3 linked regions of the Homo sapiens genome follow. The protein of the gene in region 2 purifies or fractionates together with the protein of the main gene of each other region. This does not show direct contact. Each region holds a gene or a part of one and is shown on either strand. Other genes may lie near its edges.

Region 1 (3,751 bases), on a different chromosome or scaffold from region 2:
ATACTGTTTAACTTCCCATTGCAACAGGGGATAACTTATATGATTATTTCAGCGATGATTTTTTGAATATTTTTCCATTAAAAGTACAACTGTGTGAAACAAGGCAAAGACATTTCTCACACACAAAGCAGATGTCATTAGCCACTCTGATACACTATGCTGCTGATTCATAAAATAGGTAAGAGCAGATCGTTTTCTTCATCAGAAATATCTGGAAAAAAAAAAGCCACCAAGCACTGTATGTGTCAATTTCTCACCTTTTTTTAAAAAAAAAAAGAGTGGGCTGCTACAGTGGATATGTTCTACATCTCTTTGGGGCAGTGATTACATACAATTGTCATAACTCGATGGAACTGTCTACAGGATCTGTGTATTTTCTTTTAAGTAATTTATAACTCAACTTTTTTTATGGGAAGCTGTAGTTAACACTGGATAGTTAATACTTGGCTGATAAGAAACCGACTTGTTACAGAGAAAATGAGTCCCTTCCATCTTGGGCACAAAACGGCTCCACAAGACCAGCCTAGCTCTCTGGGCAGGCAGGTAACACTGGCAGGCAGAGGCATGCTCCTTGAATCTCACTGAGGGGGACAAGTGTTAGTGCGAGGCAGGTAGGAGCAAGGCCGCACACGCAGACTCTGTCATCTGGGCAGCTGCCCAATCCCCGTTTTTCATTTGTAACAAAAATAGTGTCCACCTCTTAATAATGTTCTGAGGATTAAGGGCGTTAAGTCGGATGTTTGTTGAAAGCACTTAGGCATAGTAGGAAGTACTAAGTAAATATGTCTTACCACTATTTATTATAAAAGATGAACAGGCTGGCCCGGCGTGGTAGCTCACGCCTGTAATCCCAGCACTTTGGGAGGCCGAGGCGGGCGGATCACGAGGTCAGGAGATCAAGACCTTCCTGGCTAACACAATGAAACCCGGTCTCTACTAAAAATACAAAAAATTAGCCGGGCGTGGTGGCGGACGCCTATAGTCCCAGCTACTCGGGAGGCCGAGGCAGGAGGATGGCGTGAACCCGGGAGGCGGGGCTTGCAGTGAGCCGAGATCGCGCCACTGCACTCCAGCCTGGGCGACAGACCGAGACTTCGTCTCAAAAAAAAAAAAAAAAAAAATGAACAGGCTACTACTACTACTACTACACACACACACACACACACACACACACACACAGAGCCACTGCCTAAAAATCTGGCAATCCTTCCTGACATTTATTACTGAATAACGAACGGTTACCAAACCTGTCTCCCAAATCACAAGACTCTTCCAGATTAAAATGTCTCTCGCCCACTTGGATCCACTCGCCTGTCTAGGACACAAACCCGTGAGGCACCAGCCCCCGTGACAGAGGCAGATTCCAGCTTCGCCTCACGCCACCTCACGCCTCGCGCCAGCCTTCCCACCACTGCCCGCGCAGCCCGCGCGGCGTCACGTGACCTCTAGTTCCGCACCGCCCCCCCCACCCCCCGGCCTAGCTGCCGGATCCCCGCCCCGGCTCGTCCGCGGTGTCACATGACACCTGGACCAGCCGCTGGCCAATCCCCTCCCTCCCGGGTTGCGAGGCATCACGTGGACGCTACTCGCTATCCCCGGCCTGTTGGCTTCTTCCGCGCTGGAGTATCCAGATAGGCGACACGCCGGCGGGCGGCTGAGGCGGGAATGGCTGCTGTACTGCAGCGCGTCGAGCGGCTGTCCAATCGAGTCGTGCGTGTGTTGGGCTGTAACCCGGGTCCCATGACCCTCCAAGGCACCAACACCTACCTAGTGGGGACCGGCCCCAGGTAAACGTCCCTCTCCAACCTCCCCAACGTTCGCAGCCGGCCCCGGAGCCCGGGCTTTGACTGATCGCGGCTGCGCGGGCAGTGGAGAGCGCCGCGTCCTGTCCCTAGCTGGGCAGCCCCGCGCCTAGCAGCCCCGTCGGGACTGCACGCAGACACTCGGATCTCGAAGCTAGCTAAAATACGACCACCCCAGGTGATAGCTCTCTAATTTAGGGAGAAATGGAAAAAAAAAAAAAAAAAAAAAAAAAAACTTCTGTTTTGAAACCCGATTTACTGTTCTTGATGTTTGAATGCCAGGGTGTGCGTGTTTAAACTGTTGAGAAAATTCGGATGTCAAGAGTCCAAGAAAGCGTTTACTTTGCTCACTTGACTTTCACTGGTGTTTTGCCCAGAGTGTAACTTCCCTTCTCAAAAGCGATTAATTATGTTGAGGCGATTTCCTCAACTCAGCAGCAGAGGGCAGGATTCTCCTGGCTTCCAAATTGGTTCTCTGCAGCCTGTGGGCTCATAAGAGGAGCTGACATAAGTAATTTGGGGAAGTTTTTTGTTACAATTGTGTGTGACCTTGTTTGAGTTTAATTTGCAGACACAGTAACACACCTGTATTTCTAAGAAGATACTTTTGCTCTTGTTTAGCTGCATTCTGTTTTAGTGGAATTATGCAGGAATGGGAGATTTGGTTTACTGCATAGTAAGTCTTAGGCATTTAGCAACTTTTGTAGTCTTTACTGGATGAACCCAGATAATGTAGTTTCTCTTGAGCATAGAATTTAATTGTGCAGTCAAGACATAAATTATTTTTAAAATATAATTGATTACTAAAAACGATTTAGTAAGTACAGTTAATTGAGTTTTCCTTGGAAGTGTCTACTGTTTGGCGTTTTTCCAGTAAATAAGAATTTTAGAAGCAGCAGACCTGCAAAGTGGGCAGGTAAAAGATTAAGTTCAGAGTAAATAAGGCAGGGTCAGGTAGTTACCAAAGGTTTAGGCTGCCACCAGAATCTAGGAGGATAGAGAATTAAGCAGGAAAAATGCCAGATCTCTAGGGTACAGTCTGTCTTGGCTGGAAGTCCCTCAACCAAGTAAATCCATAGGCGGTCTCTCTACAGTGTGTCATCTTGAACTAGTCAATACCTCAGACAAAAGATGCATATTATCAGAATTACCCTGGAAAGTCTCTTAGAAGAACACCATGTTGGAGATCAGTGTATTGTCTCAGTAAGTTCAGCACAACCTGCCTTTTTTCCAGCGTTGAAACAGATGGCTGATTCTGTTTGAAAACCAGGTGAAGAAATTGGCTTGTGTTGAGGGGCTATATTGTATGAAAAATACATACTGTATCTTTAAACACTATAATCACACTCAACATAGCAAAGTGCTAGTGCTAAGAGAGACTTAAAGACTAACTGAGGGAAAAGCAGATTTATAGTCTCTCGTCTTAAATTACTTAACACTGTTGCTCACATAAATTAATGGAGTGGAATGGCCAGTGGAATTACTTGCACTATGTAAATTATTTCTCCATATAGTTGAACTAGAGAGTCCGTATAGTTGAGCTAGAAATAAGTGTAGATAATGCTACTGTATAAAGTAAAAGGTGTAAAGTAAAAGGTGGCTAGAAGTTAATATTAATTGGCCCCTTGTCAGATGTTCTGAGATTGGTATCCACCTGTTCCGCTTCACAAAACAGTTCTAAGATCACAAGCGGCTTTTGTATCACTAACCCCAATGGTATTTTTCTGTTCTCATCTTCCTTGAACTTCAGTGCTTTGACACCATTGACGACTCCCTCCTTAATTTGCCAACACCACATTCTTCAGGTTTCCTATTACCTCTTGAGCTGCTCTTTCTCTTTCACCTTGATAGAGTCATCTTCTTTATCAAATCTTTAATTATTTTAGTTATTCAGTATATAATCCTCATCTCTCATGTTCTTCTACTGTATTCTCTACCTAGGTGATCTC
Region 2 (3,651 bases):
TCACGCAGATGCTGATGTTCGGTGCTGATCTGGGCTGCAGTGGGATGGAGCAGCAGGTATCAGCCCAGGCTGCGTGTTAGAACCACCTGGGAGCTCTAAAAAGCGCTGGCTGCTGACGCCCCCAGAGGCACTAAGTTTACAGGGAAGTCTCAGGGCAGCAGGAGCTTGCAGGCCTCCAGAAGGAACACCCGTGGGCATCTGGGCATGGCTAGGAGTGTTTCTGGTAAGTTCAAGGCATTGAGCCTGCACACAAGTCTCTTGGCCTCTTGCCGAGTGCACGTTCTGATTTGGCAGGAAGGTGGGCCTGAGCCCTGCTGGTGGGGGCTGTGCTGGTCTGAGGTCCGCGCTGTAAGGGACTGGTGGGATGCCACATTGGAAGGAGGCCGCCCAGCTCAGTGTCTCTTACTGGGGCATGTGATGATTTTTCCCCACGTCTCTGTGGAAAAGATGAAAGTAGCTGCATTCGTTGCCCATTCTCCAGTCCCACTGGTAACTGTGTACCTGTCTCCAAGGAGACCTGCATCCAAAGATCTATGCCATATTGTGGCAACATGTGGCATACCACAGAGATCAAGAATTCCTGCGGAAAAGCCCTGAGCTCAGAGGAGAGGGGCCAGCCAGGAGCTGGCCTCCCTTTGCAGGAGAAAGGCATGAGGAGCCTGCACCCTAGCTGTTATTTTTGTCTCAGGCTCAGATATGGAGGGGGCTAAACGCCGCCCTCTGGAAGCAGCTGTCTGGTTGTGGACCAGCCTTGTGTGCCCTCCACTGCAGCAGTCAGGGAGGTTAGGGTAGGAGCGTCAGCGTTCACGGACAGCCTTGGGCTTTTACAGTGATCAGAGAGACCCCTGCCCTCAGCAGGGCCAGCACTCCTGGGCAGGGAGAGAGAAGAAACCTCACAAACCAGGGCCTGAAGCGAATGTGGCCAGCGAAGTCCTCCTGGACCGACCCCCTTGTGGCTCCCCGCGACGGGTGCTGGTCGGCGGGGTGCAGGCCACGTGTCTGCACACGTTAGGTGCTCAGGTGCTGACGTGCTGGGCCTTGGTTAGACGCAGGTCTGGGCCCAGGTCTGGGTTAGGTACCTTGGAGGGAGGGGAATGAAGGGCAGGGTCTGTAGGTGACTGGGTAGCTTTGGAAAGGTTTCTTAGGGCTCGTGGGCCGTGCATTCGGGCAGCTGGGGCTACTGGGGCCTCAGAGCACCTGCACTGCCATGGATTGAGGGGCGTCTGCCCCCTCCATTACCCAGAAGCTTCGTTGGTGGAAAGCGGGTGGCAGAGGGCAGGGCAGTGTGTCATCAGCTTACCCGCCCAGTGTGTCTCCTTCACAGGGTCACAGTAAATCGATCCAGTGTCTGACGGTGCATAAAAACGGCGGCAAGTCCTACATTTACTCTGGGAGCCACGACGGACACATTAATATCCTTTGACTCAAAGAGCTGGCTCCGGAGCCGCTGGCTCTAGGGGGGAATTTCCTGTTCCCATGATGCCAGAGGCCAGGCCAGCCAGGTGGCTCCAGCTGCAGCCACAGCCACACGCTCTTCTGACCCGTGTGGCTTCTAGGGGTGGCCTGTCTGTACATGGGGACAGGCAACTGTCCCCTGGAGTTGTCCTTGGCAACTCCAGGGCTTATGCTGAGGAAAAGCCATGGGCGGCTCCGACCTGATCAGTCCCTTCTTGTCGTGCAACCCTGAGAGTGTGGCTTAACGGCCCTGAGCTTGGGCTGCCACTACCTCTGCCAATGGCACCTGGCGCCAGCCTTGGCCCTACTCCACATGGTGGGTTTCTTGATTCCTAGAATTCACAAGCACCTGGACACCCTTACGTTGGGTCCCCTTGTTTTAAAAATAGGAAAACCAGAGCCCAGAGAGCTGATGTGCCCGCCCCAGAGTCATGCAGCCTGTGGTCCACAGAGCCAGGGCTGGAGCTCCTGCGAGGTGCCTTGTGGCCCTTCGGTGATGTTCCCTGGAGGTGTTTGTGTCCCCCTTATAAGTCCTTGTCTGGGTTTCTTTAAATGAGTCCTGGTTTCTCCCTGATGATGGGGGCTTCTGTTGTGTTTTTCCTGCATGGCCTGGGGCTGGTGACACCCTGCTCACGGGTGTGTCTTGAACCTTGGAGCCACCATCTGCAGAGTGCCTGGGCAGGGATGCCCACACACGTTGCTGATGATGGCACCTGCTGTGCGTTGTTCTGCTGCCCTCCCTGAGCACCGTGCTGTGTTGGAGACTGCCTTTTGTGTGGACAGCTCTGGTCCGCATGTGCTGTACCTCCCAAAGGGACTGTCCGGGACCCAAGGAGGTCCCCCCAGGCTGGGAGAGGAGGGCAGACATGCCACCCTCTGCCCCCAAAACATAAAGAAATGTGGGGTTAGAGGGTTGCGCCTACCCGATAACTAGTAGCAGAGGAGACGCCGGAGCCTCCCCAGCTTGCTGGTCCCCAGTAGGCCTTCAGCACGGCTCCCTTTCTGCCTCATCCCAATCCCTGTGTGGTGCACCCACACTTCAGATACCCCTTCCTAAGAACGTGTCAACAGTGGACACTGCAGGCTTCCCAGGGGGAATGGTTATGTCCGTTTGCGGCGAGATTCTCATTCTTGATGTAAATGGAGAATCTTAGGACTGAAGCCACACCTGAGAACACCCAGCAGTCCTGGGAGCCGGGCTTTTCCTTAACCCCACCCTACATTACTGGGATTCAGAGACGGGGGAGAACGACTCCTTCGCTGGGAAAGGCCACACGAACCAGGTGTCCAGGATGACCGTGGATGAGTCGGGGCAGCTCATCAGCTGCAGCATGGACGACACCGTGCGGTACACCAGCCTCATGCTGCGGGACTACAGGTGAGAGCACTCGGGTCTGCGGGGGTTCCGGATGAGCCTCAGCTCCCCTCGGAGGGCTTGTGCCCTCCAGCAGTTACTGTTCTGGAGGACGCCTCACTTGCTCCTTTCATCTCTCCCACCCCGTCCCCAGCATTGTTCTCCTGTTGTTGGGCCCTGAGCCCAGCACTGTGTTACAGATCCAGGTGGTCTGGGTAATGCTCTTGCCCACAGACAACGACCAGGTGTGGACTCTGCCCTGGAAGCAGGGGCAGCAGATCACAGCCCTGTTCTCCAGGAACCTGCTGCGGTCTCTCCCTGTGTCCCTTTCCTCATCAGTAAAGGCGGGTACAGTGGAGCCTGCCTCAGGCTGTTGTGGATTAGGTGAGCCTGGCACAGGGCAGGTGCTGAGTACAAGACAGCATTCCCCTTCTGCTCAAGGGTGAGATGGGCACACAGTGATCTGGTTAAAAGACAATGTCTTGTTTGTTTTTGGTCTTGGGCCTTTGATTGGCAGTCAGTGGAGCTAGGAGAGTAGCAGTTTGCAAGTGATCTGAAGTCCTAAATGCAGTTGGAGGGACTTGAAAGAGAAATGTTCCAGGACCTGACGAGGCCACTGCACATCCAGTGTCCCCATGCCCAGGTCTGACCCCTCCTCTGGCCCTACATTTCTTGTGTAGACCCCTTTGTCACCCGGTAGTCCTGCCTAAGTCGTGTTGCCTGGGAGATGGGGACTCCTGGGGCCTGTTGATGGGAGCCTGGCACAGGGTGCAGCACGCAACTCCTAGCAGGTGTGCCGTCCTTGTAGGTAACACAGGCCCTGCCTGCCTGGCAGACTGGGC
Region 3 (3,651 bases), on a different chromosome or scaffold from region 2:
TAAACCACAATGTGGGGGCAAAACTTTTAAAGTAATAGCAAGGGATGAGTGCTCAGTAAGGATCACTGTAAATAACAGAGTAGTTAGCACACCAAATCTGACACACACTGAGCATTTTCACCCCAGTGCACTGCCTTTGCCCCTCTCTGTAATGTACAGCTATGTTTAGTTCTGCATCCCCTTGAATGTCAACTTTGCTTATGTTTCACATTTCAGATAGTATTCTTTCACAGATGCTCACACCTATAAATACAAACAGAACATTGGTGCATAATAGTGCCGATAATTGGTAACATTACCTTGTTGTTGGCTTAAATGGGATTTCTACTAAACGATTCACTGTTTTTAAGCTGACTTATGGGTTAAATGAATTTTTTTCAGTCATTTTCAGGAAGTATCCACTGTTTCCTGTTTTACTAAGCATTTATCTCAGGAATAGCCAAGCTTTTCTTACCTGTTGTGATGATCATTTGGGTTTTCTCTATCTAGCAGCATGATTGGTTTTATATCTCTTATAATCCATTCATGGGATGACTCTCAATCAAGGGGGTAATTTTAATGTACTGCTGGATTAATATTGTTCATTAATGTTTACTTGGGAAGTTAGTATCAAGGTACGATCTAGGTCTCTCATTCTACTTTTTTCCCTTTTGTTGTCTTTTAGCAGCAATGTTATGTTAGGTTCTTGAAAAGATTTAGGAAGCTTTTCTTCTCTAAGAAGAGTTTTAAAACTTTTTTATTGGCCAGGCGTGGTGGCTCATGCCTGTAATCCCAGTACTTTGGGAAGCCGAGGCAGGCGGATCACGAGGTCAGGAGTTGGAGAGCAGCCTGACCAACATGGTGAAACCCCATCTGTACTAAAAACACAAAAATTAGCTGGGTGTGGTGGTACGTGCCTGTAGTCCCAGCTCCTCAGGAGTCTGAGGCAGGAGAATCACTTGAACCCAGGAGGCGGAGGTTGCAGTAAGCCAAGATCGTGCCACTGCACTCCAGCCTGGGCAACAGAGCGAGACTCTGTCTCAAAAAACAAACAAAAAAAAAACACAAAAAAAACCTTTTTATTATGGAACATTTCAAATCTATATGAAAGTAGAGAAAACAGTATAAAGAATGAATCCCTGTGTATCCATCACCTAGCTTCAACAATTATCTGTATAGGGTCAATCCTGTGTATTTCCATCTACCCACTCCCTGCCTCCCTGCCTCCCTGCCCTCCACGAAAGCTGGATTATTATTTAATAGTAAATCCCAGACATCTAAATAGGTGTTTGAAATTGTAAAATTTTATGACTAATACATGAATACATTCATCTTATTTTTAAAAAAACGACTTATAGATTAGGCCAAAGTCCCTTTCAACCACTATTCCTACATCCTTGGACCCCTCCCCAGAGGTTGCCACTGTTAGAAGATTGGCGTGTGTCCCTCCTTGTATTTACTTATTTATTTATTTGAGACAGAGTCTCACTGTGTTGCCCAGGCTGGAGGGCAGTGGTGCGATCTTGGCTCACTGCAACCTCTGCCTCCCAGGTTCAAATGATTCTCACGTCTCAGCCTCCCGAGTAGCTGAGATTACAGGTGTGTGCCACCATGCCCAGCTAATTTTCTTGTATTTTTAGGAGAGACAGGGTTTCACCATGTTGGCCAGGCTGGTCTCAAACTCCTGGGCTCAAGTGATCCACCCACCTTGGCCTCCCAAAGTGCTGGGATTACAGGCGTGAGCCACTGCGCCCGGCTAGATAGACTTTTTCATGTGATCTTTTTCTTCCTTTCTCTTCAATCCTTTAGACAAATTGGGCAACATGGGGTTTATGACATTTTTCTGCTGAGAGACTTATGCTGAAACCTAATTAGAATTTTGAAGAGGCAAAATCAAAGATCTATAGGCAGAGAACTACATCATTAGAATGTAGTGACTCCATCTAGAATGGAAAACCTGGATTTGTGCTGAGCTGTGCCACTCACAACTGTGTATCCTTTGGGAAAAACATGTCTCTGAATCAGTTCCTCATGTTTCAGGGGATATAGACTTGACTTTAGAGGGCATGTGGGCATTGAGTATACATGAAAGCATTTTGTAAATGATAAAATATAGGAATAGAAAACCAAACACCTCATGTTCTCACTTAAAAGTGGGAGCTGAACAATGAGAACACGTGGACACAGGGAGGGGAACATCACACACGGGGGCCTATCGGTGGGTGGGAGGCAAGGGGAGGGAGAGCATTAGGACAAATACCTAATGCATGCGGGGCTTAAAACCTAGATGACGGGTTGATGGGTGCCACAAACCACCATGGCACATGTATAGCTATGTAACAAACCTGCACATTCTGCACACATATCCCAGAACTTAAAGTAAAATAAATAAATAAATAAATAAATAAAATATGGCTTTTATTATTGCCTATGTTAGGTCACTTTAGGATGAGAGGAAGCCAGCCAGGCGCAGTGGCTCACACCTGTAATCCCAGCAGTTTGAGAGGCCAAGGCAGGCAGATCACAAGGTCAGGAGTTCGAGACCAACCTGGCCAAAATGGTGAAACCCCGTCTCTACTAAATATACAAAAAATTAGCCGGGCATGGTGGCAGGCGCCTGTAGTCCCAGCTACTCGGGAGGCTGAGGCAGGAGAATCACTTGAACCTGGGAGGCGGAAGTTGCAGTTAGCTGAGACCATGCCACTGCACTCCAACCTAGGTGACAGAATGAGACTGTCTCAAAAAGAAAAAAAAAAAAAATGAGAGGAAGCCAAGGAGAAGAAAGTAGTACTCATGCATCACCTCTGTTTTGTTAGAACATACTTCTAAGGATTAATAAGCCTGAATTCTAGAGATGAGGAGTAGCACAGATTGATGTCAATGACAAGTTAGGAACACTGTTTTAGAGGCTTATGCTAGAGGGTAAGTTTGATCTTAGGATGGGTGCTGAAGAGATGGGTTTGCCTTCCAAGGCATGTGCGTGCATGCACACACACACACACACACACACTAATGTGGCCTCGGTGTGTCCTCTACCTCTGTGTTCAGAAGGGAAGCTTCTTCTAGTGTCAGACCTCCTGGGTTGAAGACTGGCACTCCTGCTCAGTAGCTGGTAACTTTGAGCAAGGTTCTTCACCTCTCTCAGCCTCAGTTTCCTCAGTTGTAAACATGGGCAAATCATAGTACCTTTTTCATGTAGTAGTTGTAAGGTTTTGATGAGATAATACAATTAAAAGCCTTAGCACAGAGCAGGCATAGAGTAAGTGCTCATTATTACCTTATTTTTGTAAATATTATCTGACCTCACCATTATCAGCCTGTGACCCTGTTTCTTCTCTTTCAGGTAGGAGGTGTGCAATCTTTGGGGGGAACAGGTGCACTTCGAATTGGAGCTGATTTCTTAGCGCGTTGGTACAATGGAACAAACAACAAGAACACACCTGTCTATGTGTCCTCACCAACCTGGGGTGAGTCTTTCAGCTGAAGTGAGAGGAAAAACAGAAACCAGAGAGAATTATCCTCATGACTCTCCCTGGTTACACAGAAAATGTAATCCAGCCCTAGAACAACTGACTGTTGGGAATGGCTTGAACAGTGGGTTATGGCAGTGCATGAGAAACCTGCTGCTCAAAATCAAGTTAAGAATACTCTTTCTCAAGACTCTTAGTAGAC

What was found.
Region 1: the proteins of WDR1 (region 2) and LACTB2 fractionate together in Homo sapiens (co-fractionation; one large-scale study listed by BioGRID). This does not show direct contact.
Region 3: the proteins of WDR1 (region 2) and GOT1 fractionate together in Homo sapiens (co-fractionation; one large-scale study listed by BioGRID). This does not show direct contact.

The regions. Positions count from the first base shown.
Region 1 is NC_000008.11:70,667,035-70,670,785, reverse strand, and holds the start of LACTB2 (endoribonuclease LACTB2), read left to right. Parts: upstream 1-1,600; 5' UTR 1,601-1,665; coding exon 1,666-1,787; intron 1,788-3,751.
Region 2 is NC_000004.12:10,082,204-10,085,854, reverse strand, and holds part of WDR1 (WD repeat-containing protein 1), read left to right. Parts: intron 1-1,324; coding exon 1,325-1,412; intron 1,413-2,676; coding exon 2,677-2,833; intron 2,834-3,651.
Region 3 is NC_000010.11:99,406,521-99,410,171, reverse strand, and holds part of GOT1 (aspartate aminotransferase, cytoplasmic), read left to right. Parts: intron 1-3,322; coding exon 3,323-3,446; intron 3,447-3,651. UniProt on the Homo sapiens protein: Biosynthesis of L-glutamate from L-aspartate or L-cysteine. Important regulator of levels of glutamate, the major excitatory neurotransmitter of the vertebrate central nervous system. Acts as a scavenger of glutamate in brain neuroprotection.